Regions from separate parts of the Homo sapiens genome. Here region 2 is linked to region 1. A link means that fine-mapping ties the variant in region 1 to the expression of a gene that starts in the linked region. Tissue or cell type: fetal neocortex. Region 1 holds a variant in brackets; the other region holds the start of a gene. All regions are shown on one strand. Distances are between the middles of the regions. Region 1 overlaps ADORA2B (adenosine A2b receptor). Region 2 holds the start of ZSWIM7 (zinc finger SWIM-type containing 7).

Evidence for each region.
Region 2: it holds the start of ZSWIM7, and the variant in region 1 is fine-mapped to the expression of ZSWIM7 in fetal neocortex (Walker 2019, PIP 0.95).

Annotation. Positions count from the first base shown.
Region 1 is chr17:15,960,664-15,975,889 of GRCh38, forward strand. It overlaps ADORA2B (adenosine A2b receptor), which reads left to right. Exons shown (of 2, transcript NM_000676.4): 2 at 14,016-15,083. The coding sequence ends at 14,679. Among named protein-coding and RNA genes, the nearest start is that of ADORA2B, 23 kb to the left of the region's middle. RefSeq lists enhancers at 5,056-5,642, 5,643-6,228, 6,229-6,815, 6,816-7,400, 7,651-8,399 and 1 more. The variant A/G (reference allele first, on the strand shown) is at 4,248.
Region 2 is chr17:15,989,717-16,004,254 of GRCh38, forward strand. It overlaps ZSWIM7 (zinc finger SWIM-type containing 7), which reads right to left and starts at 9,988. Exons shown (of 5, transcript NM_001042697.2): 1 at 9,803-9,988; 2 at 4,041-4,062. The coding sequence starts at 9,878. It overlaps TTC19 (tetratricopeptide repeat domain 19), which reads left to right and starts at 10,108. Exons shown (of 10, transcript NM_017775.4): 1 at 10,108-10,316; 2 at 10,402-10,529; 3 at 12,199-12,309; 4 at 13,077-13,115; 5 at 14,115-14,171; 6 at 14,485-14,538. The coding sequence starts at 10,133. RefSeq lists silencers at 9,562-9,721, 10,072-10,461 and an enhancer at 9,862-9,951.

The sequences.
Region 1 (15,226 bases):
GATCGAGACCATCCTGGCTAACACGGTGAAACCCCGTCTCTACTAAAAACACACACAAAAAAATTAGCCGGGCATGGTGGTGGGTGCCTGTAGTCCCAGCTACTCGGGAGGCTGAGGCAGGAGAATGGCGTGAGTCCAGGAGACAGAGGTTGCAGTGAGCCGAGATCATGCCACTGCACTCCAGCCTGGGCGACAGAGCAAGACTCCGTCTCAAAAAAAAAAGTCTGGGCGCAGTAGCTCACGACTATAATCCCAGCACTTTGGGAGGCCGAGGCGGGCGATTCACGAGTTCAGGAGATTGAGACCATCCTGGCTAACATGGTGAAACCCCGTCTCTACTAAAAATACAAAAAATTAGCCAGGCGTGGTGGCGGGTGCCTGTAGTCCCAGCTACTCAGGAGGCTGAGGCAGGAGAATGGCGTGAACCTGGGAGGCGGAGCTTGCAGTGAGCCAAGATCATGCCACTGCACTCCAGCCTTGGCAACAGAGCGAGACTCTGTCAAAAAAAAAAAAAGGCAAAAGCTGCTATTACTTTTACTTTTGCATCACCCTAATACAATAGTGAGTGTACCACTGCACTTCAGCCTGGGCAACAGAGTGAGACCTTTTCTTGGGGAAAAAAAAAAAAAATTAACATTTTTGAGTTCAGGTGATTTTGCCAAATGTCCCTCAATTTGAGTTTGGTTGTTTCCTTATGGTTACATTCAGGTTAAACCTTTTTGGTGGCAATACTGTCTACATGAGTGGTGCTGCATCCTCAGTCAGTCCATTAAGTAAGAAGGACACAATGTCTGTTTCTCCCATTGTTGGTATAAATCTGATCACATGGTAAAGGTTGTGTCTGCCAGGGTTCTTCACTGTAAGGGTATGTTTTCCCCATTGATGATTCTTGCCTGAATGAGTTACTACTATTGTCTTAGTCCATTCTATGCTTTTATAACAGAATACCACAGACTGCATAATTTATAATGAAAACAAATACATTCTCACAGTTACGAAGGCTGGGAAGTCTGATATTAAGGTGCCAGCATCTGGCGAGGGCCTTCTGGCTGCATCATCCCATGGCAGAAAGTGAGAGGGTAAGAGAGGTGAGAGAGTGAGCAAGCAAGAGAGGGCTGCACTTGCATTTATAACAGACCCACTCTCAAGATAACAGACCCACTCTTAAGATAAAAAACCCACTCCCATGATAGTGACATTAATTCATTCCTGAGGCCAGAGCCCTCATGACCTGATCGCCTCTTAAAGGTCACACCTCTCAGCACTGTTGCATTGCAGATTAAGTTTCTAACCCATGAACTTCGGGGGGCACATTCAAATCACAGCAACCACGGTGATTATAAAATGGTAATTTTCAGGCCGGGTGCAGTGGCTCATGGCTGTAATCCCAGCACTTTGGGAGGCCAAAGTGGGTGGATCACTTGAGGTCAGGAGTTCAAGACCATCCTGGCTAACATGGTGAAACCCCATCTCTACTAAAATTACAAAAATTAGCTGAGCATGTTGGTGGGCACCTGTAATCCCAGCTACTCGGAAGGCTGAGGCAGGAGAATTGCTTGAACCCGGGAGGCGGAGGTTGCAGTGAGCCAAGATCGCGCCACTGCACTCCATCCTGGGCAATAGAGCAAGACTGCGTCTCAAAACAAAACAAGACACAACAACACAAAACAAAACAAAACAAAACAAAATTGGTAATTTTCTTTTTTTTCCTCATTCCTTCCACATTTATCAGTTTGCATTCTTCTGTAAAGACAAGCTTTAGCTTCTCCTTGCCCTTCCTTATTTTATTAATGTCAGTATGGACTTACAGAATTTTATTTTCATTAAACGAGTTATAATCCATTCCTGTTATTTATTTATTTATTTTTATTTTTTCCATTTTTTTGAGACAGAATTACGCGCTTGTTGCCTGGGCTGGAGTGCAATGGCGCAATCTCAGCTCACCGCAACCTCTGCCTCCTAGGTTCAAGAGATTCTGTGGCCTCAGCCTCCTGAGTAGCTGGGATTACAGGCGCCTTGCCACCACGCATTTTTAGTAGAGACGGGGTTTCACCGTGTTGGCCAGGCTGGTCTCAAACTCCTGACCTCAGGCAATTCACCCGCCTTGGCCTCCCAAAGTGCTGGGATTACAGGCATGAGCCACCGCGCCCGGCCCCTGTTATTTATTTTGATGCCCAAATTCAGCCAGTGAGAGAGGGCCCTTACAAGGTCACTTCTGTTTGAGTGTTCCTATTGTTTTTGAGCACTTTCTTATATTTTGGCATAGAAAGGTATTCCAGGCTCACATTGTAGTTTCCAGTTTGAGTACTAGCCATTTTCCAAAGAGTCTTGGTTCCTTTTAGTGGAGAATTATATATAAAAACCAAGATTTGGGTAGATTTGCTCAGTGCTACTGGAGTATCCTTTTTTCTGGGCCCTAGCAATAAACAGAGGTAGGAGGTTTTTTTTAATAAAAAATAGTGAATTACAAGAACTCTTGCTTATAATACAATGCCATCTAATTAATGAAAAGGAATGATTGAGTTAAGCAAATCACCATTTCACGACTGTCATAGTAAGAACTGATTCAGGCAAGAATCATCAATAGGTGCTAAAACTTGTAGGTGAAAGTTTGATGAGGAGTAAGATACTTACAGTCCCCAAACACGTACCACAAGATACCTGCTAATTAAAATGGGAAAGTTATGATGGAGAAACCTGGCAGACACCACATCAACCAAGTGCCTTCTCATGTACCCCTCTTGCTGGTCGCTTGTGTTTATGGCGGCTGATGCTTTTGACAGTTAATGTCACATCTGAGGCAGTGCTCCGTAACCCCAGCCTTGGGAGGGCACTTTTTGGGGCAGAGGACAGAGTGTCCTGTTATCTTTTGGTCTGGTTCCAGGCAGGAGCCCTTTCTCTCAGGGACTGCTTATTTTATGGGAAGGAGATCAGAGTCTGGAGCCCAGTAGCTTTGGGCTGTCTCTGTGTCCCATGTGATCCATGAAAACAGCACATGAGAATCACCAGGCCCAAAGGGGAACTCTGGGAGACCTGGTCCTGGCCCCTAACCTCAGTCTCAACTGGTTGAATCACTGGTGGACCACCTTGGATTGCCTCTTCTTGCCATAGGAAGCTGGTTGGGAGTGCTGCCAACTTTCTTGACCGCAACCTGCATTGCTCATCTTTTGTTCTTAGGGGACTGTGAAGGACAAATGGCATCTCTCCCAGCCACCTTCACATAAGACAGTGGGCTCAGCTCAGGCCCAGCCAGGTCCATCACTGGAATTCAGACATGTCTGAACTTGCTGGAGTAGATGAGAACCCCACAGGAGCCAGAGCAGCCCGGGGCCAGGGCCTCCTGGGAAGACTCGGCCTGAAAGTAACCTTTGGTGACCACACCTTGCTATCCAGTGGGCAGGCAGATGCTGTCCTTTCCTCAGACTGGCCTGCAGGCTACAGCCGTGCCCATCTGCAGAGATAAGGTGGTTTGCCCTCAGGACGCAGATGGCAGAGAGGCCTGCTTCCCGTTCATATAAGTAAAATCTAATAGTATCTACTTTTTTTATTGTTGTTTTTGTGTAAGAATGGTTTTATTTGTTCCTTAAATGTTTGGCAGAATTAGTGAAATCATCTAGGCCTAAAGTTTTCTTTGTGGGAAGGTTTAAAATGATGAATTTTAGGCTGGGCGCTGTGACTCACACCTGTAATCCCAGCACTTTGGGAGGCCAAGATTGGCGGATCACCAGAGGTCAGGAGTTCGAGACCAGCCTGGCCAGCATGGTGAAACCCTGTCTCTACTAAAAATACAAAAAAATTAACCAGGTGTGGTGGCAGGCGCCTGTAATCCCAGCTACTCAGGAGGCTGAGGCAGGAGAATCGCTTGAACCTGGGAGGTGGAGGTTGCAGTGAGCCGAGATCATGACACTGCACCTTCATTCCAGTCTGGGCGACAAGAGCAAGACTCTGTCTCAAAAAAAAAAAAAAAAAGAAAAGATGAATTCTACTTTTTTAATTGTTATAGTGCTATTAAAATTTCTATTTATTTTTCTGTTCATAAATATTAAAAAAAAAACCTTTTATAGTTTGGTACCATAGGAAATCTGAAAAATAGATGAATATTAAAAAAAAAAATCTGGCCGGGCGCGGTGGCTCACGCCTGTAACCCCAGCACTTTGGGAGGCCAAGGTGGGCGAATCACGAGGTCAGGAGATCGAGACCATCCTGGCTAACACGGTGAAACCCCGTCTCTACTAAAAATACAAAAA[A/G]TTAGCCCGTGTGGCAGCGGGTGCCTGTAGTCCCAGCTACTCAGGAGGCTGAGGCAGGAGAATGGCGTGAACCCGGGAGGCGGAGCTTGCAGTGAGCCGAGATCGTGCCACTGCGCTCCAGCCTGGGCGACGGAGCTAGACTCTGTCTCAAAAACAAACAAACAAAATTTCATAGTTTGATCCCATGGGAAATCTGAAAAAATGGGAGGCTGCTCAGAAGCTCGTCATAACAATATCCCCTCTTATATAGATAGCCTCTAGTGGTTTATAAGCTGAAGCTGAAACCATGTTCATGCACTTGATGTTGATGCCTTGCTTTATTTAGAACTCCCAAGTCCCAGGTGGGTGTTCAACATGTTTCTTTGATTAAGAAGGCAGGGTTCTGTTCCCTTCTTATAAACTCAGGCTTTCTCTCACCATTTGCTTGCCAGGCAGTGTTAGGTGTTTTGGATACAGCTGTGAGTCTGTTCCATGGAGGAGCTCATCCTTCAGTGGAAAGAGACAGAAAATGCAGTTGTGTGGTAGGTACACGGGAGAGGTGCTCTGGGTGGTCATGAGCTGCCCTGAGAGCTCAGGGGCAGATAAGCTGCTCTGCTTCCATGTGAACTTCTGTACTGTGAATTAATTCACGCGTGGCAGGTGGCCAGGGGAAGGATGTTGGTATAATGGAGACACTGCTTTGGTTCACCTGTGATTTTGCCTAGGCAAAGGAGGTGGAATAGTGGGAGGAGAATGACAGTGTTCAGCAGGAAAGGAAAAAGCCCTCTGACTGCTCTGCCGCAGGAGCCCCTGTGGGCTCCTGGGAACAAGAAAAAAACAGTGCCTGCAGCTGGCACTCCCGTAGAAAGCCACATCCTAGCCTGCTGGGGTCTTGGCCGTGGCAGGCTACGCTGCCTCCAGGCCCATCTTAGTAACAGCCCCCTGGCTCAGAACTCCTCTTTCATCTGCACTGTCTTGGCACCTGTCAGCCTTGCTCTAATTAAAGTTTGCCAGGCTTTCTATTTGACTTTTTTGGTGCAGTTTTAATATCCATGGTGGCAGCCTCTTGCCCCACTGAACTGCCTGCCTGGGTGTCCCAAAAGATTTTGTTAGTGCTCTAGTGACAATGTTTTGTAGGTTTGAGTGGTCTGCTCTAGCCCCATGTTTCACAGAAGTCCTGTTAATATGTGGAATAAGATAACATGAGGTTTTCTAAGAATGTATATATTGCTTTATAGCAGAAATGTATGTATTTCAGAGGAATTTAAAGCTTGTGAGCTAGATAGACTATAAACGGAAGAAACATCCCTAAAACAAACAGGAAACAATTTTAAGAAGCGGCAGTAGAACTCTGTGTGCATTTACTTAGCAATCTGCATTTCTAAAGTGCTTTGTACACATTCCGTCTATGTTAAAAGCCTCAGCAGCAGGTTGGAGGCGGGTTCTGGGGCTAGTGTTTCCGATGGGAAGCTCAGGCTCCATCCAGCCTGTGGCTGGACTGGCCAGGCTCAATGTCACTCCCCAGGTAGCTGCCCTTGATCTATACTAGGAGCACCTTGAGAGCTGGGAATTGATTTCTAAGCCTGGTTTGAGCTGAGGGCCACAGAGCCAGTGCAGGAGGAGACCCTGCCCCAGAAATAGGCCAGTGCTTGTTATGCAGGCCTTGGCGGTTCCCCGTTTCCTTACGTAACCTCAGTGTTCACGCTGTTTCCTTTTGTTGATTCCCTCCGTGTGACTGTTTTTCTGTCAATCTCCTTAGCTAATGAGCTCCTTATAAGGAGAATGGATGGATCAGAGCACAGCTCCGTACACAGTGGTGGGGCATAGCCATTTCCCAGAGTGTGGACTTTCCCAGAACTCCCCTGTTGTGTGGGCCTGCAAAGGCTGGGATTGTTTCTGCCTTGTTTGGAATAATAAAGCTGCCTGTGTTTCCTGTGTTCACTTTTCAGTCGCCTGTTATTCACTCTCCTACATTTGGGGCGGTTGTCCTGCTTCCCTGGCCTCACTGCAGTGCTCAGTGACCTCTGCAGCAGAGCAGTGACTGCCACGGGCTGGCGAACGGAAGGACGGAAGGACGTGGCCCATGCCCTTCAGGAATGTTTTGGGGAGATGGACAAACGCATGCAGACCTGAGGGTGTTCGGAGCACAGGGAGGGAGGCAGAGTCTGCAGCAAGGGGTGGGGCCGAGGAGGGAGACTGGCCTGGGGAGAGGACAGAGGCCCAGCAGGAAGTGGGAAAGGAGAGGGCGTGGCAGGTGGTTACCAGAGCCCTCCTGAGATGCCAGAGTCCCCAGGGGTTCGTTCCTTCCAGTGTCCTGCCCAGTGCAGGGACACCTGCTTGCCTTTTTTTTTTTTTTCGAGATGGAGTCTCGCTCTGTCACCCAGGCTGGAGTGCAGTGGTGCAATCTCACTCAGTTCACTGCAACCCCCGCCTCCTGGGTTCAAGTAATTCTCCTGCTTCAGCCTCATGAATAGCTGGGATCACAGGCATGCGCCAACACACTCGGCTAATTTTTGTATTTTTAGTGGAGACGGCTTCACCACGTTGGCCAGGCTGGTCTCGAACTCCTAACTTCAGGTGATCCACCCACCTCGGCCTCCCAAAGTGCTGGGATTACAGGCGTGAGCCACCGCGCCCAGCCAAAGGGACAGATTATTAAAGAAGATAAGAATGGGAGAAGGTGGAGGATGCAGGGGCCAGGGCACGTGGGGAAGGACACTTCCTCAGCTGTACTGTTGCACTCCAGCCTGGACGACAGAGTGAGATTCCGTCTCAAAAAAACAAAACAAAACAAAAAATGATATTACAAAGGACATAGACCAGGGTGAGGTGTGAGAAAGAGCGAGGCGTTTCCATGCCCTCCTTGGGTGCACCATCCTTCAGGAACCTCCATGTGTTTGGCTGTCCTGTAGCTCTCCGTACCTTTTCGTCGTAGCCCTTTTTTGGATTCTCCATTGAATAGACATGACTCAAGCATGGACAACTGGGTGGCAGTGTGAGTGGACGAAAAGGCATGATTCAGACTGACAGGCTGAATGGGGAAACTCAGCAAAGCCTATCTGTTCCAATGCTTCTTGGCCTCTCTGTGCGGCTCCTTCTAGGGGAGGGGCAGGACCCCTTCTGAAATGCGGGTCTTATGAGTCACAATCAAACAAGGTAGATCAGAGAATTTCTTTATGGACAGCTCCAAGACAGAAAGACAGAGGAAGATATATTTTTAGTTATCATGGCCTGTCTTGGGGAGAAGTAACAAGGGCTATGGGAGTTATGTGCCAGGAACTGTGGACCAAAGCCAACACAGCTGACCCTTGAACAGCACAGGTTTGAACTATGCAGGTCCACTTGTATTGGATTTTTTTCAACCAAACATGACTGAAAATGCAGTATTCCTGGGATGTGAAACCCACATATACGGAGGGCTGCTGACTGCGGAACCTCAGTATGTGAGGACTTTGGCATACATGGGGATCCTGCAACCAACCCCCTGTGTGTACATACGGTGAGGTGACTATACATACATACCATAACATCGCAGAGCACACTCCGCTTCCTACAGAGGTTGTGCTGAGGGGTCTGGTTATGTCCTCCAGCATGCCTCTTTTTGCTGTCCTTGAGGACTGCCTCCCAGGAGGGTGGCAGAAGCCCCTTCCTTCAAGTCTTCAAGCTGCTGACCTATGGCTGTGTGGTCAGGCGGAGGAGGGAGCTGGAATTTGTGAGTTGAACATGGAAGAGCTGTAGATTCCTATGCAGGAAAATGGCAGTTTGGGGCGAAATTGGAATCAGATTAGATGAGGTCTGTGTCCTGACTGCAGTTTAGCAGCAGCAGGCACATCATGTAGCCTTTCTGAGCCTTGGCTTCCACGTCTGTAAACTGAGGATAGCAGCTCTCACCTCAGGAGGCGTGGTTTGATGAGATGTGAGGGGTCCACAGCCCAGAGCTGCCCAAATAGCAGGTGCATAGGCGGTGGCAGCTGTGCCATGGATGTGTCCGGACAGCTGGGGGAGGGTGTGCAGGCATCTGTCACCAAAACTTGGGGTTTGGTTGTGCGGTTCCTCCCCTGCCTCAGCTGATAACTTTCTCCATCCTTCTCTGAGGTAACAGCAGTTCTCAAGGAGATGCTGGCCCATCTTCTCACCACTCAACTGTCCCACTCCCTGCACTGGCGCTGTTCTTGTCCTTCCTTCCACTGCAGCTGAGGAAGTGTCCTTCCCCACATGCCCTGGACCCTGCATCCTCCACCTCCTCCCATTCTTACCTTCTTTAATAATCTGTCCCTTTGGCCGGGCGTGGAGGCTCACGCCTGTAATCCCAGCACTGTGGGAGGCTGAGGTGGGCGGATCACGAGGTCAGGAGATCGAGACCATCCTGGCTAACACAGTGAAAACCCATCTCTACTAAAAATACAAAAAAAGAAATAGCCGGGTGTGGTGGTGGGCGCCTGTAGTCCCAGCTACTCGGGAGGCTGAGGCAGGAGAATCGCTTGAAACCAGGAGGCAGAGGTTGCAGTGAGCTGAGACGCGCCATTGCACTGCAGCCCTGGCGACAGTGTGAGACTCTGTCTCAAAATAAATAAATAAAATAATAATAATAATCTGTCCCTTTTTCCTGCATCTTCTCTACTGATCATTTTCAGCAGTGTGCCCGCATCCACCATTCTCTTGATCTTTATCCCACTCTTCCTTTAATCCTCTCTTTCAGGAAATGCAAATGCGTAGGGGGAAACCCTAAGGAATCATCCTCCAGTCTTCATCTTCCTGCACCTGTTGATCTGCAAGACCTGTTGGTTCTGCCTCCACAGCGCATATCCACTTCCATCATTTTTGCTGTCACCCTGGCCCAAGCCGACGTTGTCTCGAGTCAACTACCGAAATAGTTTCCTAGCTGATCTCTCTGCTTTTCTTCTGGCTCCCCTAAAATTCAGTCTCCGTACTCTGGCCAGGTGACCTTTATACAACAGAAATCAGTACCATCCCCTGCTTAAAAGTCTTCCATGGGTCCCGGTGCCTATGAACTGGCCCCTGCCTCATCTTGGGCTCATTTTCCTGCATGAAAGCAGCACATGTTGTTCTCTCGGCCTGGTATGTTCTACTTTTCAAATTTCTCACTCCTCAACCTTTAGCTTCTGCCTGAAAGGCCTCCTGACATCCTGTATCCAAGGCCTCCATGTTTCTCTTCTCAGTGCATCCAGTTCATTTTGGTATAGCGGAACCCGTCGCAATTCATAACTTCGTATTTATATGTTTACTTATTTTCTGTGTTTCCCATTAGCTTATGTTCCACAAGGGCAGTGATTGTGTTTCCAGTGCCTAGCAGAATGTGTGGTACAAATGAAAAACTCTTCGAATGAACTAATGAACCAACAGGGAAGAGTGGTGGTGATGGAGGTTTACAGAGAAGGCAGTGACCAGCTGCCCCACTGATTTAATTAGCTGCTTTTCCTTATCCAAGAGAAGGCATGACAGTTTTGCACATGTGTCGGATCCAGCAGCTATGAGAAGTTCAGATGGGGTGGACTCCAGTTGTTGTTCTGAACTCTAGTAGGAAGCCACCCCTATGAATGAGCCTCTATGTACAGGGTGCTGCAAATATAAAATCGCTTTAAAAAAAAGAGGCAGCATAACATAGTGCAAGGAACACAGGCCTGTGAGTACTGATTTAGCTTCTGGTCTTTGGTTTGTGTATTAGCTTTGTTCTTCTTTTCTTTGTTTTCTTTTCTTATTTGTGAAATAAGAGAGATTGGACTAGAAAGATAAAAGTCCTCTCCAGTTTGGCTGTGTTAACGGAGTACCTCACAGTGTTATCAGCAATCGAAACATTTAATTATCTTTTGAAACCAGAATATGGAGCTGTGATGGTTCTAGGGTTAGTCAGGTGGTTCAAAGGTGTCATCAAGGACCCAGGCTCTACTATTGTCTTCTGCTTTGCCATCAGCTTTGTCTCCAGGCTTGTCCCTTATGGTCACAGTGTGGCTGCTACAGCTGAGGGCATCACACCCTTCCACAAGAGCATCAAAAGCAGAAAAGGATGGTCATGGGGCAGAGCTGTCCTTATGGGTCCCTCTCTCTTCATCAGGGAGTAAAATCTTTCCTGGAGGTCCCTAGCAGATGTCCTTGTATGTCTCACTGGCCAGAACCACTTCATGTATCCACTAGACCAATCATGAGAATGGAAGTGCCATAATTTCCTTATCCCAAACATAAATTCATCCCCCAGAGCTGACCTGTTACCCGCTGTACTCGATACAGCTTAGTCCTGTGAACAAAGGAGGAGTAAGGGCAGGCTGCTGCATGGGCTGCCTCATGGACCTGAAGTTCTGTGATTCTTAGGACTCCGCCTTTGGGAGGCTTCCTTGTTATGCTGCAGGGACTAATTGTGTTATTCACATCTCCAGTGAGGCAATGGCAGAGAACAACTGTTTTTAAGGAAGGCTTTACATTCCTGAATGAGGTGGGAAACAGATGAATTCACTGGCCAAGACAAATTCAGTGAAAAAACTGAGCCCAGCAGGTCTTCTGTAGTATAGGGGCCCATGATTGAGCTGCCTGTTGCTAAGAGGGAGTAGAAAAGATTAGAGATCATTGTAAATTATGAGGCAAGACCTCAGCTAACTTCCTCAGCAAACGACTGGTTCTTCTGCCTGTTCAGGCTGCAACCTCAAGTATTCCTAGTAAGTAGAATCTTTCTTTAAAGCTGCCTAATAAAGTCAGATAATAAATGATGAATGTATTTGTAATGGCCATTTTTTTTTTTTTTTTTTGAGATGGAATCTCACTCTGTCGCCCAGGTTGGAGTGCAATGGTGTAATGATCTCGGCTCACTGCATCCTCTGCCTCCCAGGTTCAGGCAATTCTCCTGTCTCAGCCACCTGAGTAGCTGGGATTACAGGTGCCCACCACCATGCCTAGCTAATTTTCGTATTTTTAGGAGAGACGGGGTTTCACCGTGTTGGCCAGGCTGGTCTCAAATGCCTGACCTCAAGTGATCCGCCTGCCTCGGCCTCCTGAAGTACTGGGATTATAGGCATGAGCCACCATGCCTGGCCTGTGATGGCCATATTAAGAACATACTATGTGCTGGGAACTGTGCTAGGTCTTCGGGATACCAATACAAAGGGACAAGGTCCTAGTCCTTAAGAGGCTGACATTCCAGTTGAGGGATACCACAGGTATCAGATAAGCCAGCTCTATGACAAGTGAGTTATGGGGCAGGAGAATGGGAGTGGCCACCTCTACCTAAGAGGTGAGCAAGAAAGGAAGTGACCTTTTAAGAGCAACAGATGCTTTGTCTGATGTTGAGAATAGCATGAGCCAGAGGGAGCCATTGGTTAAGAATGGCAGGCACTGGACGTGTGGAGCCGAGGCTGGGGGGTTCTGCGGCCATGCTGGGAAGTATACGTCTTACACTGCAGGTAAAGCAAACAAACACTTCCCATGGGCAAGTCTTCAGGTAATGTCAATCAAATTATTTCCCAGTTTTCTCTTCCAGAGATTACAGAAGGATTTTATTTCATTTACTTAATACATTACATTGATTATGTTCATTTATACATTACATATGTATTATGGACCAGTTGTTAATAACAAAATGTGTACCTTTGCTATAAACCATGGATAGACTAGTGTATAGCAAAATGTCTAAAAGGGATATTATGGCATCTGTTGCTCTTATAAGGTCACTTCCTTTCTTGGTCACCTCTTAGGCAGAGGTGGCCGCTCCCATTCTCTTGCCCCATAACTCACTTGTCATAGAGCCTGCTTATCTGATACATGTTGTATCTCTCAACTGGATACTGGTCAAACCTCTTAAGGACTAGGATCTTGTCCCTTTGTATTGGTATCCCCAGTAGTGGTTTCTAGTATTTTTTTGTTGTTTGTTTTTTTGAGATAAGGTCTTGCTCTGTCACCCAGGCTGGAGTGCAGTGGTGCAATCACAGCTCACTGCAGCCTCAACCTCCTGGGCTCAAGTGATCCTGACTCTCCCACTTCATTCTCCCGAAATAGCTGGAACCACAGATATACACCACCGTGCCCGGCTAAGTTTTGTACTTTTTTGTAGAGATGGAGTTTCACCATGTTGCCCAGGCTGGTCTCCAACTTGTGATCTAATGGCTTGAAGATGACCAAAAAATTTAATATTTGCTATTTCCCAATTTTTATCAACTCTGCTGCTAGTATTTCTCAGTAGACAGGGGCACTGCTAGACTCTTGTTCTCCAGCAGTCTGCAGAGGTATTCAGAAATGATTCTGCCCATAGTCCTAGGCAAATGTCTTGTGGTGTTTGTGGGAAGCCAGAAAGATCCTTGCCTGGAGCCACAGGTGGTGCTGACTCCAGTGCTTACTGCCTCAGGCCTTTGTTCAAGTGTCACCTTATCCATGATGTCAGCCTCTTTAAAACTACAGTCCTGCCCATCCTGATCTTTCTTACTCTGCTTTTTCATGTTTCATACCACATATATCTCCATACTGTTTATTATTATGTTTACCCCTGCTAGATCTGAGTCTGTTAAAATTTAGTAGGGATCTCTGTGTGTTCTGTTCACTGATGTATCTCAAGCACTTAGAACAGGGTTCCTCAACCCCTGGGCTGCAGACTAGTACTGGTCCGTGGCCTGTTAGGAACTGGGCCACACAGCAGAAGGTGAGCAGGCAGGCGAGCATTACTGCCTGAGCTCTGCATCCTGTCAGATCAGCAGCATTCGATTCTCATAGGAGCTAACCCTATTGTGAACTGTGCACGCAGGGGATCTACGCTGTGCGCTCCTTATGAGAATCTAATGCATCACCCCCCGCCCCTGGTCTGTGGAAACATTGTCTTCCATGAAGCTGGTCCCTGGTGCCAGAAAGGTTGGGGACCACTGACCTAGAACAATGCCTTACAGAAGACCTAGACTCAAAGAGCGGTACCTAGGTAGGTAGGAAGTATAGGAAGTCGATCGGTTTTTGGAAACTGTGACTTGAAGCAAAATGATGCACTGTATAACAAAGCCAATTTTACCACAGTTGATACTGTTAAAAGAAAAACTTCGGCTGAATTCAATTTAAAAGAGCTTAATTGAGCAAAGAATGATTCACAAATTGTGCAGCCTGCTGAGCCAAAGCAGGCTCAGAGACTCCAGTGCAGTCACGTGGTGGAAGATAATTTATGGACAGAAAAAAGAAAGTGATGGACAGAAAAAGGAAAAGTGACGTACAGAAAATGGAAGTGAGGAACAGAAACAGCTGGATTGGTTATAGCTCAGCATTTGCCCTTTTTGAACAGGGTTCGAACAGTTGGCCACATTTGATTGGCCAAAAGTCGAGGATTGGCATGAGTGCAGGCTATAGTCTGTTTACACGTCCACTTGTTGTAGTCCACGATGTACAGAGAAACCTTTAGGCCAAATTTAAAATATGTAAGGAGGCAGCTTTAGGCTAAACTTGATTTAACAATATAAACAAGAGTTAACTTCCTATGACATATACTTCAAGTCACAGTTTGAGAACCCACCGAGGACATTGAGGACTTACAGTACTCCCTTAAGGCTTCCCCACCTCTTGTCATTGGCCATCCTGTGTCACTAAACAGAAAGGAGTTGCTAAGTCAAGAATGAAGATCTTACTGAGTTTTCTAGAGCAAAGCTGCTCATCCCTGCTTGCATGTCTTTAGTATTGAGGGTAAAGGCCTTAGTGCCCTGGAAGGTGAACTTTAGAGGTTGTTAAAGGGTCATGGAAAAAAGAGGAGGTGGGGTCTTGGATTGTGGTTGCAGAGCGCTATAAACTGACCGTAACAGATGGTATTCTTTTAAACAGGTATAAAAGTTTGGTCACGGGGACCCGAGCAAGAGGGGTCATTGCTGTCCTCTGGGTCCTTGCCTTTGGCATCGGATTGACTCCATTCCTGGGGTGGAACAGTAAAGACAGTGCCACCAACAACTGCACAGAACCCTGGGATGGAACCACGAATGAAAGCTGCTGCCTTGTGAAGTGTCTCTTTGAGAATGTGGTCCCCATGAGCTACATGGTATATTTCAATTTCTTTGGGTGTGTTCTGCCCCCACTGCTTATAATGCTGGTGATCTACATTAAGATCTTCCTGGTGGCCTGCAGGCAGCTTCAGCGCACTGAGCTGATGGACCACTCGAGGACCACCCTCCAGCGGGAGATCCATGCAGCCAAGTCACTGGCCATGATTGTGGGGATTTTTGCCCTGTGCTGGTTACCTGTGCATGCTGTTAACTGTGTCACTCTTTTCCAGCCAGCTCAGGGTAAAAATAAGCCCAAGTGGGCAATGAATATGGCCATTCTTCTGTCACATGCCAATTCAGTTGTCAATCCCATTGTCTATGCTTACCGGAACCGAGACTTCCGCTACACTTTTCACAAAATTATCTCCAGGTATCTTCTCTGCCAAGCAGATGTCAAGAGTGGGAATGGTCAGGCTGGGGTACAGCCTGCTCTCGGTGTGGGCCTATGATCTAGGCTCTCGCCTCTTCCAGGAGAAGATACAAATCCACAAGAAACAAAGAGGACACGGCTGGTTTTCATTGTGAAAGATAGCTACACCTCACAAGGAAATGGACTGCCTCTCTTGAGCACTTCCCTGGAGCTACCACGTATCTAGCTAATATGTATGTGTCAGTAGTAGGCTCCAAGGATTGACAAATATATTTATGATCTATTCAGCTGCTTTTACTGTGTGGATTATGCCAACAGCTTGAATGGATTCTAACAGACTCTTTTGTTTTTAAAAGTCTGCCTTGTTTATGGTGGAAAATTACTGAAACTATTTTACTGTGAAACAGTGTGAACTATTATAATGCAAATACTTTTTAACTTAGAGGCAATGGAAAAATAAAAGTTGACTGTACTAAAAATGTATACTTGTTGCCAGGAAGGTGACCTCAAAAATTAAAAGTATAATTATTCGGCCGGGCATGGTGGCTCACACCTGTAATTCCAGCACTTTGGGAGGCCAAGGCAGGCGGATCACGAGGTCAGGAGTTCAAAACCAGCCTGTCCAA
Region 2 (14,538 bases), 29 kb after region 1:
ACCCCCTGGGCTCAAGTGATCCTCCCACCACCTCAGCCTCCCTAGCAGCCGGGACTACAGGTATATACCACCACATCCAGTTAATTTTTTGATTTTGTGGAGACAGGGTCTCCCTGTGCTGCCTAAGCTGGTCTCAAACTCCCAGCCCCAAGCGATCCTCATATTACAGGCGTGATCCACCATGCCTGGCCAAAATTTAATTTTTTGAAAAGGCAATAAACCGGCCAGGCGCGGTGGCTCACACCTGTAATCCCAGCACTTTGGGAGGCCGAGGAAGGTGGCTCACGAGGTCAGCAGATCGAGACCATCCTGGCTAACACGGTGAAACCCCGTCTCTACTAAAAATACAAAAAATTAGCTGGGCACGGTAGCAGGCACCTGTAGTCCCAGCTACTTGGGAGACCGAGGCAGGAGAATGGTGTGAACCCGGGAGGCGGAGCTTGCAGTGAGCCGGGATCGCGCCACTGCACTCTAGCCTGGGTGACAGAGCGAAACTCTGTCTCAAAAAAAAAAAAAAAAAAGCAATAAACCAAAATTTAAGAGTGATTATTACTGGGTGGTATGATTATTGATGCTTTTTATAGGTTTTATTTTCCAATAAAAGTTTTTTATAAGTGTGGGTTATTATTATTATTATTATTATTACTGAGTTGGAGTCTCACTGTGTTGCCCAGGTTGGAGTGCAGTGGCACGACCTCTGCTCACTGCAACCTCCACCTCCCAGATTCAAGTGATTCTCCTGCTTTAGCCTCCCGAGTAGCTGGGATTACAGGCGCATCCCACCTCCCAAGGTGCTGGGATTACAGGCATGAGCTACCACACCCGGCCTAAGTGTGGGTTATTTTTATAAACTAGAAAATAAAATGGCAGGGTTAAACTCAAACTGAAAAGTTAATGTTTTAAAGAACTTATATGACTTAACACAGAGTAAGACAAACCTAGTAAGGCTTCAAAATTAAAATGTTCAACTTCTTACTTCATTTTCCAACAAACCAGCCACATATACAACAAATTATTGGGGGAAATAGAAAAGAGTGCTTTGAATTTTTATATTAAACATATGAAGATTTAGTCTATAAAATAACAAAATACAAAAAACAATGAAATAAAATTTGTCGGGAACCTTACCAATCAATCTCAACAGTTACCTTTAAGAATTTTTTTAAGGCCAGGTGTGGTGGCTCATGCCTGTAATCCCAGCACCTTGGGAGGCCAAGGCAGGCGGAACTCCTGACCTCATCATCCACCTGCCTCGGTGTGTGCCACCTGTAGTCCCAGCTACTCAGGAGGCTGAGGCAGGAGAATCACTGGAACCTGGGAGGCAGAGGCTGCAGTGAGTTGAGATCGCGCCACTGTACTCCAGCCTCAGTGACAGAGTGAGACACTGTCTGAAAAAAAAAAGAATTTTTTTAACCTGCTCTGTCCACTTTAATACCTACTGTGAACATCTCTTGAATGCATTAAAAATTTTTCCATATCACTTTTAATGGTTACAAATAATTCTACTGTAAAGATGAATCATTTTTATTCTCCTCAAACTCCATGAATTGTTAGATTGTTTCTATGTTTTATTGCTACCATAAACAATACTGGATATTCATCACACTGAGAATATCCTCACTGTAAAATCTTTACAAACATCTATAATTACTTCCTGGGTATATGTTCTTTTATGTGGAATTTCTGGGTCAAAGAATATGTATGTTTTAAAGTTCCTATTGCCTGTTACCCTGCAATTTACATTCCTGTTATAAATGACCCCTTTCCCCATATTTGTGTCAACTTCTTTTCTGTGGTCACTAATTTTCTAGATGAAAAGTTATGTTATGTTAATTTGTATTTTTGTGGTCACTAGTAAGATTTGTCTTTTTCCTCCCAAAGGATTCGGCTATTTACATCTTTTATTCTTTGCCCTTTTGTTTTTAAAGTAGTACATTTTTTTCCAGTAATATTTAATTCTTATTAAAAATTTAAGAAATACAGTAAAGGTTAAGGCCGTTCCCTCAATTCTACCTCCTTCCTTGCCCCAAAGAAAAAACACTGGTAGAGCTTGGTATATATTCTTCAGAACTTTTATTTTTTTAGAGACAAGGTCTCACATCACCCAGGCTGGAGTGTAGTGGCACAATCATAGCTCACTGCAGCCTGGAACTTCAGGGCTCAAACAGTCCTCCTGGGACAGGTTTTGTTTTTTTTTGTTTGTTTTGTTTTGTTTTGTTTTTTTTTTGAGACAGAGTCTTGCCTCTGTCACCCAGGCTGGAGTGCAATGGCATGATCTCAGCTCACTGCAACCTCTGTCTCCTGGGTTCAAGCGATTCTCCTGCCTCAGCCCCCCGAATAGCTGGGATTACAGGTGCCTGCCACCATGCCCGGCTAATTTTTGTATTTTTAGTAGAGACGGGGTTTCACCATGTTGGTCAGGCTGGTCTCGAACTCCTGACCTCAGGTGATCCACCCGCCTCAGCCTCCCAAAGCGTTGGGATTACAGGCGTGAGCCACCGCACCTGGCCAGGATTTTTAAATGTAAGTGTGTATCAGTAATTAAGTATTACTTATACCTAGGTAGCTTTTACTTTTTTGGTCTCTGCATTTTTAAAATAACTGACCACTCTATATTATTCTCATTTAAGTAGTTGTATCAACTGCAAATAATGATAATTGTCTTTCCTTGCAGATAGGTACATTTGTAATTTCTTTTTCATGTGTTAGTTGAACAGCTACGCTTTTTTTTTTTTTTTTTGAGATAGAGTTTCGCTTTTATTGCCCAGGCTGGAGTGCAATGGCATGATCTTGGCTCACAGCAACCTCTGCCTCCCAGGTTCAAGCAATTCTCCTGACTCAGCCTCCCGAATAGCTGGGATTACAGGAATGCACCACCATGCTTGGCTAATTTTGTATTTTTAATAGTGACAGGGTTTCTCCATGTTGGTCAGGCTGGTCTTGTATTCCTGACCTCAGGTGATTCGCCCGTCTCGGCCTCCCAAAATGCTGCGATTACAGGCGTGAGCCATTGCGCCCGGCCAACAGCCACAATTTTTAAAACAATGTTAAATAAGAGTGGCAAATATGACAATACTGGATATGGTGTTGGCTATTCAATTGAGACAAATTTTTAAGAATCATGTCAAGAAAATATTATTCCTAGTTTCTAAGAGTATTTTTTATTTTTTATTTTTTTTGAGATGGAATTTTGCTCGTTACTTAGGCTGGAGTGCAATGGCACAATCGCAGCGAGATATGCAACCACAACCTCCCGGGTTCAAGCAATTCTCCTGCCTTAGCCTCCCAAGTAGCTGAGATTACAGGTGTGTGCCACCACATCCCACTACTTTTGTATTTTTAGTAGAGACAGGGTTTCACCATGTTGGTCAGGCTGGTCTTGAACTCCTGACCTCAAGTGATCCACCCACCTCAGTCTCTCAAAGTGCTGGGATTGCAGGTGTGAGCCACGGTGCCTGGCCTTTTATTCTATTTTTAAAATTATTTTCGTAGAGATGGGGGGTCTCCCTATTTTGCTAGAGCTGGTCTCGAACTCCTGGGCTCAAGCAATCCTCCTGCCTTTGCCTCCCAAAGTGCTGAGATTACATGTGTGAGTCACAGTGCCTGGTAGTAAGAATATTTTTATTTTTTATTTTATTTATTTATTTATTTATTTATTTATTTATTTTTGAGACAGAGTCTCACTCTGTCCCCAGGCTGAAGTGCAGTGGCATGATCTTGGCTCACTGCAACCTCCACCTCCCAGGTTCAAGTGATTCTCCTGCCTTAGCCTCCTGAGTAGCTGGGACTACAGGTGCCCACCACCACGTCCAGCTAATTTTTTGTATTTTCAGTAGAGATGGGGTTTCACCATGTTGGCCAGGATGGTCTTGATCTCCTGACTTCATGATCCACTCACCTTGGCCTCCCAAAGTGCTGGGATTATAGGCGTGAGCCACTGCGCCCGGTCAAGAGTATTTTTAAAAATCAAGAGTTGATGTTGAAAGGATTTTAACATTAATGGTTAAAAAAAAATCAAATACAACAGTATATGTACTTACGATAACAGATATTCATCAGGAACTGTAAAATGAGAATGGAAAAAAAAAGTTAATCATATTAAGCAGTGACCATTGACATAAAAATCTTAAAAAACACTGTAACTAAAAACACTTCCGTGTGTGATGGTCAACTGAACCTATGCATCTGGTTTTACTCCTTCCCCAAACCCCACTAAAACCATAATAAAAGGATTTCCTTTTTCTTTTTTTGAGACGGAGTCTTGTCCTGTCACCCAGGCTGGAGTGCAATGGTGCAATCTCAGCTCACTGCAACCTCCGCCTCCCGGGTTTAAACCATTCTCTTGCCTCAGCCTCCCAGGTAGCTGGGACTACAGGCATGCACTACCATGCCCAGCTAATTTTTTTTGGTATGTTTAGTAGAGATGGGGTTTCACCATGCTGGCCATGCTGGTCTTGAACTCCTCACCTCAAGTGATCCACTGGCCTTGGCCTCCCAAAGTGCTGGGATTATAGACATGAGCCACCGTGCCCGGCCAGATTTGTTTTTAAAAGTATGAATTCCAAAGGATGAGAAAGACAGGGAGAAACAACAGCCATGATACATTGGAAGCTGATAGAAGAGTGGAAAATGATTTATAAGACCTAAGAAAACTGAATCCTAGGCCAGCAATGGGGAGAGTCAAGCACCAGCCTGAGTTACACTCCAAAATCCACCTCTCCCCTTCCCCAAACCCTAACGAATTGGTGGCACCAAATAGCTTCATTAGGGGTGAAACAGGGATATGAAAATAAGACTCTTTTCGAGTACGTTTGAGAAGTAGTGGGACCCCAGTTCCCTCCACAGCTTTAGGTGACTGCCTTTCCCTCATTCTGGCAAGAGACTAGGTTTATTTTCTGGAGAGGTTCAAACACAGGCTATTTGGACTAGGGAAAAATACTAGGTACAGTGAAAGTCAGGGTGTCACACTGAAAACAGGATCTCCTGCTCTCTTCCCTAACATGGCTCCCATAACACAAGCAATCAGGCCTTCACACTTCAGCCAGGAGACTGGAAGTCTTCCCTAGGTATACCCCAAGAGAAGTGGGAATGACACTGAAATGGTTTCCCCAACTAAATAGCCTACTGAGAACAACTATAGTGACGTTCATATTCCGTAAGCCCCTCTACCACCCAGAGCTTCCAATATACTTTTTAGTCTTCCACTCTGAAATATGACTAGACAGCCAAGGGTTACCAGACAACAAAGGAAAAAGGAAATAGAATAAAACAAACAGAAGAAAGTTAGAGGAAAAACTGCAGAAAGGAGAAAATTTTAAACATCTATTACTAATATTTTATCATCAGAAAAAAGTTAATGCAATCATAAAACAGGCACAAAAACAGGCAGAAGGCATAATAAGAAGAAAAAGGGAATCTTCTGAAAAAAAGTTATAAATTAAAAATACATGGTATGTCTCTGTAGTTTCAGTTACTTGGGAAGCTGAGGCAGGAAGATTGCTTGAAACCAGGAGTCTGAGGCCAGCCTGGGCAACACAGTAAGACCCCGTCTCTCTTTTTTTTTTTTTTGAGACGGAGTTTCGCTCTTGTTGCCCAGGCTGGAGTACAATGACGCAATCTCGGCTTACCGCAACCTCCACTTCCCGGGTTCAAGCAATTCTCCTGCCTCAGCCTACAGAGTAGCTGGGATTACAGGCATGCACCACCACGCCCAGCTAATTTTTTTAGTAGAGACGGGGTTTCTCCATGTTGATCAGGCTGGTCTCGAACTCCCGACTTCAGATGATCTGCCCACCTTGGCCTCCCAAAGTGCTGGGATTACAGGCATGAGCCACTGTGGCCGGCAAGACCCTGTCTCTTAAAAAAAAAAAAAAAAAAAAAAGACAGCAGAAATTCAACAGAAAATCTGGAAGATAAAGTTCAAGAAAGTTCCCAGGAAGTAGAGAAAATATAAAAGCAACACAGAAGCCACAGTAAGTCAACCAGAAGGACAACAGAGGACATCCAGTAACTTAATTACAGAAATACCGGAAAGAACAGAGAAAACAGATGGAGGGAATTCATCAATCAAATAATTCAAAATTCCCCACAGCTGAAGGACATGAATTTCTAGCTTGAAAGGGCCCACTGTGTGCCCACACTGTGAAGTGAAAAAAAAAAAACTTTATCAGAAGATTCAGAACACTGGTTATGAAGAAAACATAATTCAAACTTCCAGAGAAAAAAAAGGTCACATACAAAAATCAGGAGTAACACTAGAAGCTAAGATGTAGTGGAAAAATGTTTTCAGATGTCTGAAGAAATATTATTTCCAACAAATAATTCAATACCTAGACAAACAATCACTTAAGTGTAAGGGCAGAAAAAGAACTTTTTCAGCCGGGCGCGATGGTCAGCCTGACTAACATTTAGTATCTCTACTAAAAATAGAAAAACTATTAGCCGGGCATGGTGGCGCATGCCTGTAATCCCAGCTACTCGAGAGACTGAGGCAGGAGAATCCCTTGAACCCAGGAGGCAGAGGGTGCGGTGAGCAGAGATTGCACCATTGCACTCCAGCCTGGGCAACAAGAGCGAAACTCCGTCTCAAAAAAAACCCAAAAAAACAAAAAAACCCCACAACTTTTTCAGACATAAGCCTCAAACAGGGGCCGGTGTGGGGGCTCACAACTATAATCCCAGCACTTTGGGAGGCCAAGGCAGAAGGATCGCCTGAGCCCAGGAGTTCCAGAGTAGCCTGGGCAACAAAGGAAGACCCGTCTCTACAGAAAATAAAATAATCAGCTGGGCATGAGGTGTGATTGCGCAACTGTACTCTAGCCTGGGGAACAGAGTGAGACCCGGTCTCAAAAAATAGAAAAGAAAGCCTCAAAAGGTACATCTCATGCCCCCTTCTTCAGGAAGCTGGCAGAGTCTGTGTGCCATAATATAAGGTAGTAAGCCTGGGCAACACAGTGAAACCCCGTCTCTACAAACAATACAAAAACTAGCTGGGCATGGTGGTGCACACCTGTGGTACCAGTTACTCAGGAGGCTGAGACAAGAGGATCTCTTGAGCCTGGGAGGTTGAGGGAGCAGTGACCTATGATTGTGCCACTGCACTCCAGCCTGGGTGACAGAGCAAGACCTTGTCTCGAAAAAAAAAAAAAAAATTTTACATGGGCCGGGTGCGGTGGCTCATGCCTGTAATCCTGGCACTTTGGGAAGCCAAGGCAGGTGGACCTCTTGAGCTCCAGACTTCGAGTCCAGCCTAGGCAACATAGTGAGACCTTGTCTCTACAAAAAATACAAAAAACTAGCCAGCTGTGGTATTGTGTGCCTGCAGTCCCAGATACTCACTTGGGAGGCTGAGGTGGGAGGATCATCTGAGCCTAGGAGGTCAAAGCTACAGTGAGCTTTGATCATGCTATTGCACATCAGCCTGGGTGACAGACTGTCTCAAAAAAAAAAAAAAGAGGTAGTAAACTGAGAAAAAGAAAACTGTAGGATATACTAAACATAGGACCCAACAAAGATACAGAGAATTCCCAGATAATAATGGTTAAGAGAGATCTCAGCAAACAGCCGAGAGATCAGCCAGTCCATATTAAGCAAGTCCGAAGGCTCTAGAGATGTCTTCAGGAAGGTGAAACTGATAACATACTTCGTTCATCTGAACATCTTGAGGGGAGATTGAGAACACTAGTAAAGGATGTGAGGTTAAAGTAGGAATAAATATGTAAAAAACTAAATAAGCACATAAACAAAACCAAGATAGTTGTAACTCCAGGGAAATCCAAAAGTTACAAAGAAAACAAAAAGTAATCATAGCTTCCTACATGGTTCCACTGTGACTAGTTTATATATCATCATACAAATAAAACTTGGAATCTTGATCTAAAAAAATTACCACTGAAGAATGGGGGTTAGGAAGGGTGCATAACTATATATTAATAGAAAAAAGATTTTGAAAAAGACAGAAAACAGGGCTTCTGAAAATAAACATGAATCAACAGCATTGGTTCCTGTGTCTGAACCATGGGTGTCAGGGGCAATGATTATGCCCCCTTCAGGACTGTCAATGTGTCTTGTGAACCTTCTTGTTGGAGGGAAAAAACCCAAAACTGGCTGGGCACGGTGGCTCACGCCTGTAATCCCAGCATTTTGGGAGGCTGAGGTGTCCGTATCACAAGGTCAGGAGTTTGAGACCAGCCTGGCCAATATGGTGAAACCCCGTCTCTTCTAAAAATACACAAATTAGCCGGGTGTGGTGGCATGCGCCTGTAGTCACAGCTACTTGGGAGGCTGAGGCAGGAGAATCACTTGAACTTGGGAAGCGGAGGTTGCACTGAGCTGAGATCGCCCATTGCACTCCAGCCTGGGAGACAGAGCAAGACTCTGTCTAAAAAAAAAAAACAAACCAACCCAAACTACTGTCAGTGTATGGATTAACCTATTCAGACACAGAACAGTTCTGGCGATTATTGTTTAAAGTGACAGCATTCCAAACCCTCAGGCCATCAAATCTGAGAGCCCAGAACAATTGTATAAGCTAACATCAGTTGGCTTTTTTCCCATCCTTTTTGGAAACAAGTATGTTTGAATACTTGGCTGCACTAATCTTTCAAGCACATATACTTAAGTCTCCTTAATTTTGACTGAGATGAGGAAACAAAGTTGGCTTATTTTTCTCAGTTCCTTAAAAACAGTAACTCAAGATAAACCCTTTCAAAATGCAGTACAGTACTTTTAAAACAAAAGCCATCCAAGTTGAATAAGCGATGGCAGTTTGGGGGCCTGATATGGCTGTTATTTATAAGGTGGCCATTTTTACATCCTAAGAGTAGTTCATTAGTCAATGCATTTTGAGTATATCAAATTTGATTTGATCTTATCCTAGCATACTCTGAACACATCTTGAGATCAACCCTTCTCAAGTGATTTTGGTGAGCATAGCCAAAGAGTACCCTCTGCTGGTCAGAAAAAAAATGGTGCTTTCACAATACCCAGATTTACTCCAACGATTGCATATGCATTTAGGTTTTGTGGCTCTTAAAATGCTTTTTTTTTTTTTTTTGAGATGGAATTTCGCTCTTGTTGCCCAGGCTGGAGTGCAATGGCGCGATCTCGGCTCACGGCAACCTCCGCCTCCCGGGTTCAAGCGATTCTCCTGCCTCAGCCTCCTGAGTAGCTGGAATTACAGGCGCCCGCCACCACGCCCAGCTAATTTTTTGTATTTTTAGTAGAGACGAAGTTTCACCATGTTGGCCAGGCTGGTCTCGAACTCCTGACCTTAGGTAATCCAACTGCCTCGGCCTCCCAAAGTGCTGGGATTACGGGAGTGAGCCACTGCGCTGGGCCTACTTTTTAAAGTGTATGGAAGCATTAACTTTAATGTTAACATCAGAATTTGAGAAAAAGAAGTTTAATAATTCAAAATTTCGTGTAAAATAATCAAGAACTCCACGTTTCTATCACTCACTGTAGGCTCCCGTCCCTTCCACCCCCGGGCGGGGACCCCTCCCAGCGACCCGGCCAGCTCTCAGCACTTCGGTCCCCACTGGCCTACTCGCTCCGACGGAGGGGCTCCTGCAACTGCGCTGTACCGTAAATATTTGCTGAATCGATTTGACTTTTACTTGTTCCAATTTCGCTTTTTTGTTGTTTTGTTTTTTTGTCTTTTTACGAACAAGAGGTTTAGAGAACCACATGGAAAAAAGGCAGGGCCAGGCCCGGACACCCCGCCTCCTGCCTCCCGGCCCGGCGGTGCCCGGATGCCCCGCCCGCGCCCATGGCGCAGCCACACACGACCTCGGTCCCGTACTTCGCGCGCTCTCCTGCACCGCCGCCGCCATCTCGCTCAGGAGCTCCTCCACAACCGCCGGCAACACTACGGCCATCGCGCCGCAGGACACGCCCTCCACGACCGGCGGACCGCCGCGACGCTCCAGCTGACTGCGCCTACCTGTGGAGGATCCTGACCCCCCGCCGGGGCAGGGCGAGACGGAGTGACGTCGGGGCGCGTCATCGCGCGTGCGGACGCAGGGATGTCCTGCTCAGTCGTCAGGGCCCGGCCAATCCGGAGGGCGCTCGGCGCGTGGTCGGGGGCCAGGAGCGCGTCTGGCCTGCAGTGCGCAGAGGACGCGGCGGGAGCATGTTCCGGCTCCTGAGCTGGAGCCTGGGCCGAGGCTTCCTGCGGGCCGCGGGGCGGCGGTGCCGGGGCTGCTCCGCGCGCCTGCTCCCGGGGCTGGCAGGAGGTCCGGGGCCCGAGGTGCAGGTGCCGCCATCCCGAGTCGCGCCGCACGGCCGGGGCCCAGGCCTGCTGCCGCTGCTGGCAGGTGAGGGGCGCGGGCCGGGCGGGGCCGGCCGGGCGGGGACAGGGGCGCGGGCCGGGCCCGATGACCTCAGAGCCCCTTCCCGCAGCGCTCGCCTGGTTCTCGAGGCCCGCTGCGGCAGAGGAGGAGGAGCAGCAGGGAGCCGACGGGGCCGCTGCCGAGGACGGGGCGGACGAGGCCGAGGCAGAGATCATCCAGCTGCTGAAGCGAGCCAAGGTGAGGCGGCTCCGGGCCCTGCGCCCGGCCGAGCGCGGTAGCCTTTGTGAGCGGGGTCTTGGCGTTGCTGCGCATTACTCTCTCCGCCTCGCCGAAGAGTGGATGGAGGCTCCGCGGGTAAAATTGCCGAGAATGAGGTGGGTCATCCGAGAGGGGATTGGAATCCATCCAGGCTTTTCCGACTCTAAGGCCTGCAGTAAAACCTCTGCAGTGTCAAGTGCAAATGGAGATGGCGCCCTAGGCATCACGCTTTATGCAAACGAAATATCGGGAACGTTTTGTAGTGGTTTTATCAATTAACCAGCCTATCTGAAATGACATAATTTCGCACGTATATAGCGGCCTGAAAATGGCAACTTAGTGTTGGTTATGCGGTTCGGTTCTCCTCCTGAATTCTTCCTTTTCTCCACATCCTTTTCTATTTTTTTTTCCTCCTCTTTTCCCAAGTTATCTCATCTCTTCCATTGAGCTAAATACCTACTCGATGCCAACAACGTCCAAATTTGTATTTCCATTCTGTAGTGTGCTACTGACATGCCATTTGCACTTTAGGACCATACCTACCTCTCAGATTTAACATGCCCAAAACTAAACGATCTTTAATGCCTCCTCAACATACGCTTTCGCCATCTCTTTACTACCATCAGTTTTTCAGCCTAAAAACCTCATAGTCATTCTTAAAACTTGTGGTACCTTACCATTGCCTTCCAATACACTTACAGTCCAGCAACAAGTCCTGTTGCCAACAAATGCAAAATATTTCTCAAATCTTTCCCCTTTTGTCTATCTCCCTTGCTGTCACCCTAGTGCAAACCATCATTGCCACCAACTATGCTCCAGTAGTCTTTCCTGGCCTCCTGGCCTCTTGCAATCTATTCTCCATGCAGAAACCAAAGCGACCAAAAAAAAAAAGAGTAAATTGGATTATGTCATCTCCTTGTCAGAAAGCTCTGAATGGCTACCCACTGCATTTATGATAAAATACAAACTCCTTGCCTTGGCTTGCAACACCCCACATGATCTAAACCAGCATATACCTTGCCCACCCATTTGGCAGTAATCCTCTGGCTCACCATCCTCCCTTCACATCTATTTCTTTGCATTTCTTCCTCAAAACCATTCTCTTCAGCTTGTAGGGACTTCACTCATTCTCTACCCTCTGTTTGAGTCATTGTTCTCCCCAGGTCCTTATTTGGTTGACTCATTCTCATCCTTACTACCTCAGTTTAGCTGTCACTTCCTTGGAAGGCTTCCCTAAGTCCTATTTAGAGGAGACCCCTTATCATTCCTTTCTGTCATCTTTATAGCTCTTATCATTAGTTGTAATTAAGCTTACTTGTCCTATATGGTCACCTCCAGCCTGCAAGAAATTAGAAAGAGGATGGAGGACAAGCAGCTTCCTTATAAAATATGTTGTAAGATCACATTCCTTCTGCCTGTGTCTCTTGGCCAAAACTTCATCAGATGGCCACACCTAGCTGCAAGGGAGGCTGACCTCCCTGTCATCTCTGTAGACAATGCTTTGTACATAGTAGGAATTCAGTAAATGTCTGATGAATGAGTTAGCTTCCTTCTATCAGTTGGGATGTACAGTTGCATACACTTCTGTCTCTTAGCATATGCATCTACTATATGTTTCATTTTCTATTATTTTGTCTTCCCTTTTCAGTTGAGCATTATGAAAGATGAGCCAGAAGAGGCTGAGTTAATTTTGCATGACGCTCTTCGTCTCGCCTATCAGACTGATAACAAGAAGGCCATCACTTACACTTATGATTTGGTAACTCTTATAACCAGTCTGAACCACTGATGAGGAAGGTTGGATGGGAGGGAAGGGTAGTTAGTTCTTCTGATTTATATTCCTGACTTTCACGATGTTCTAAAACTCCTTTTCTTTTTACTGAGTTTTCTTTTGGCTTCAGTTTCATTTTTTGTTTTGTTTTGTTTTTTTGAGATGGAGCCTCACTCTGTTGCCCAGGCTGCAGTGCAGTGGCACAATCTTGGCTCACTGCAGCCTCCGCCTCATGAGTTCAGACGATTCTTTTGCCTCACCCTCCCGAGTAGCTGGATTACAGGCATGCATCACTATGCCTGGCTAAATTTTGTATTGTAGTAGAGACGAGGTTTCACCATATTGGCCAGGCTGGTCTCGAACTCCTGATCTCAGGTGATCCACCTGCCTTGGCCTCCCAAAGTGCTGAGATTTCAGGCATGAGCCACCACGCCCGGCCACAGCTTCAGTTTTTTTACCCTTGGGGTGACATAAGACCTCTCAATTCCAGACCAAAAAAAACCAGTATCATTAGCATGTTTTTTTAATGATGAGTGGACCTAGATTTGGTTTGTTAACAACAAAGTATGTGCAAGTATTTAATTCTCACATGATTGCTGTCCTGTGCTTCTTCTTGCAGATTAATTGGTGATGTGCTTTTCATTTTCAACTATTTTTTAAATTTTGAGGGTGAAAGCAAAAGGGAATTTTAAAGTTTTGAAATAAGTAGGAACACAGTATTCTAAACTGAAAAACAATTTGTAATTTGCTTTCAGATGGCCAACTTAGCATTTATACGGGGTCAGCTTGAAAATGTAAGTAAATTGCTTTGTAATATCTTGAATTTATGAAGGAGTAGCTTCAAGGGAACTGTAATAGTAAGAGTACAGGCTAAGCTGCTATAACAAAGAGACCCTAGAATATAGTGACTCAAACAAGATAAAAGTGTATTTCTCTTTATTGTGTTAGTCCAGAGATAGGCTAAAGACTGAAGGCAGACAGACATAGGCACCTTTGCTCTCTGATCCAGAAGTCCAGGTTTCTTCTAAGATAAGCCCTCCTCTGCCTAGGTGAGCTGACTCACCTCCAGTCTGCAGGAAGGGGGAGAAGATGGACTGTGAGCAGCTTCCTTATAAAACATGATTAGAAGTTCACGTTCTTTCTGCCTGCATCCCTTGGCCTAAATTTTATCATATGACCATATCTAACTTAAGGGTGTCCAATCTGCTAAAATTGACTGAATTTTTTTTTTAAGATAAGGTCTTGCTCTGTTGCCCAGGTTGGAGTGCGGTGGCTTAATCATGGCTGACTGCAACCTCGACCTGCCAGGCTCAGTTGATCCTCTCACCTCAGCCTCCTGAGTAGCTGGGATTCCAGGCGTGTGCCACAACACTTGGCTAATTTTCTTATTTATTTATTTATTTATTTATTTATTTATTGTAGAGACGGGATTTCACCATATTTCCCAGGCTAAATCGAGGGGACTCTGTAATCAAAAAGATGGAGAAGAGAATGACTATTAGGAGACAGTTTGTAGTCTCTGCCACAGTGGGTTTGGATAAGAACTTAATCTCTGAGGTTGTTTTCTACTCATCAGAGAGTAGTTTAAGGTACACAGAGGATGTTGAGGGTCCTGATATTTTGATCTGTTTTCGCTTCAAAAGGGTACTTTTCTGTGTGTGAGTGTGCGTGTGTGTGGGTATATGGGTTTTACAAGGAATGTTGCATCAGACTGGCACTTAGAATCCAGGGTCATATATATATATATAAAATGGGGCCCAATTAAAAGAAAAATCTTTTCCTTATGCTTTTAGGCTGAACAACTTTTTAAAGCAACAATGAGTTACCTCCTTGGAGGGGGCATGAAGCAGGTAAGGACATTGCCTAGTATTGGCCCCTCACTGAAGCAGTTTTCAAAACAGTCTTGTCTCCTGAAAACTCCTCCTAGCCCCACCACATGCTTTGGTCAGGAAAGGTGGAGTTTCCCTTCTGAGATCTCTATACAAATTGCCATTCTTTCACTAAATGCAACAGCATGCTTGCCAAGGAATTCACAGTTGGCTCATCACTCTAAAAGAATAAAGACTGTGGCTTTGAGGCCACCGTCAGTCTGGAAGTTGATCTGAAATATGCCATGAAAAAATTTACTTGTTATGAGTTCCCTTCATTCTCTTTCTCTCACAGGAGGACAATGCAATAATTGAAATTTCCCTAAAGCTGGCCAGTATCTATGCTGCG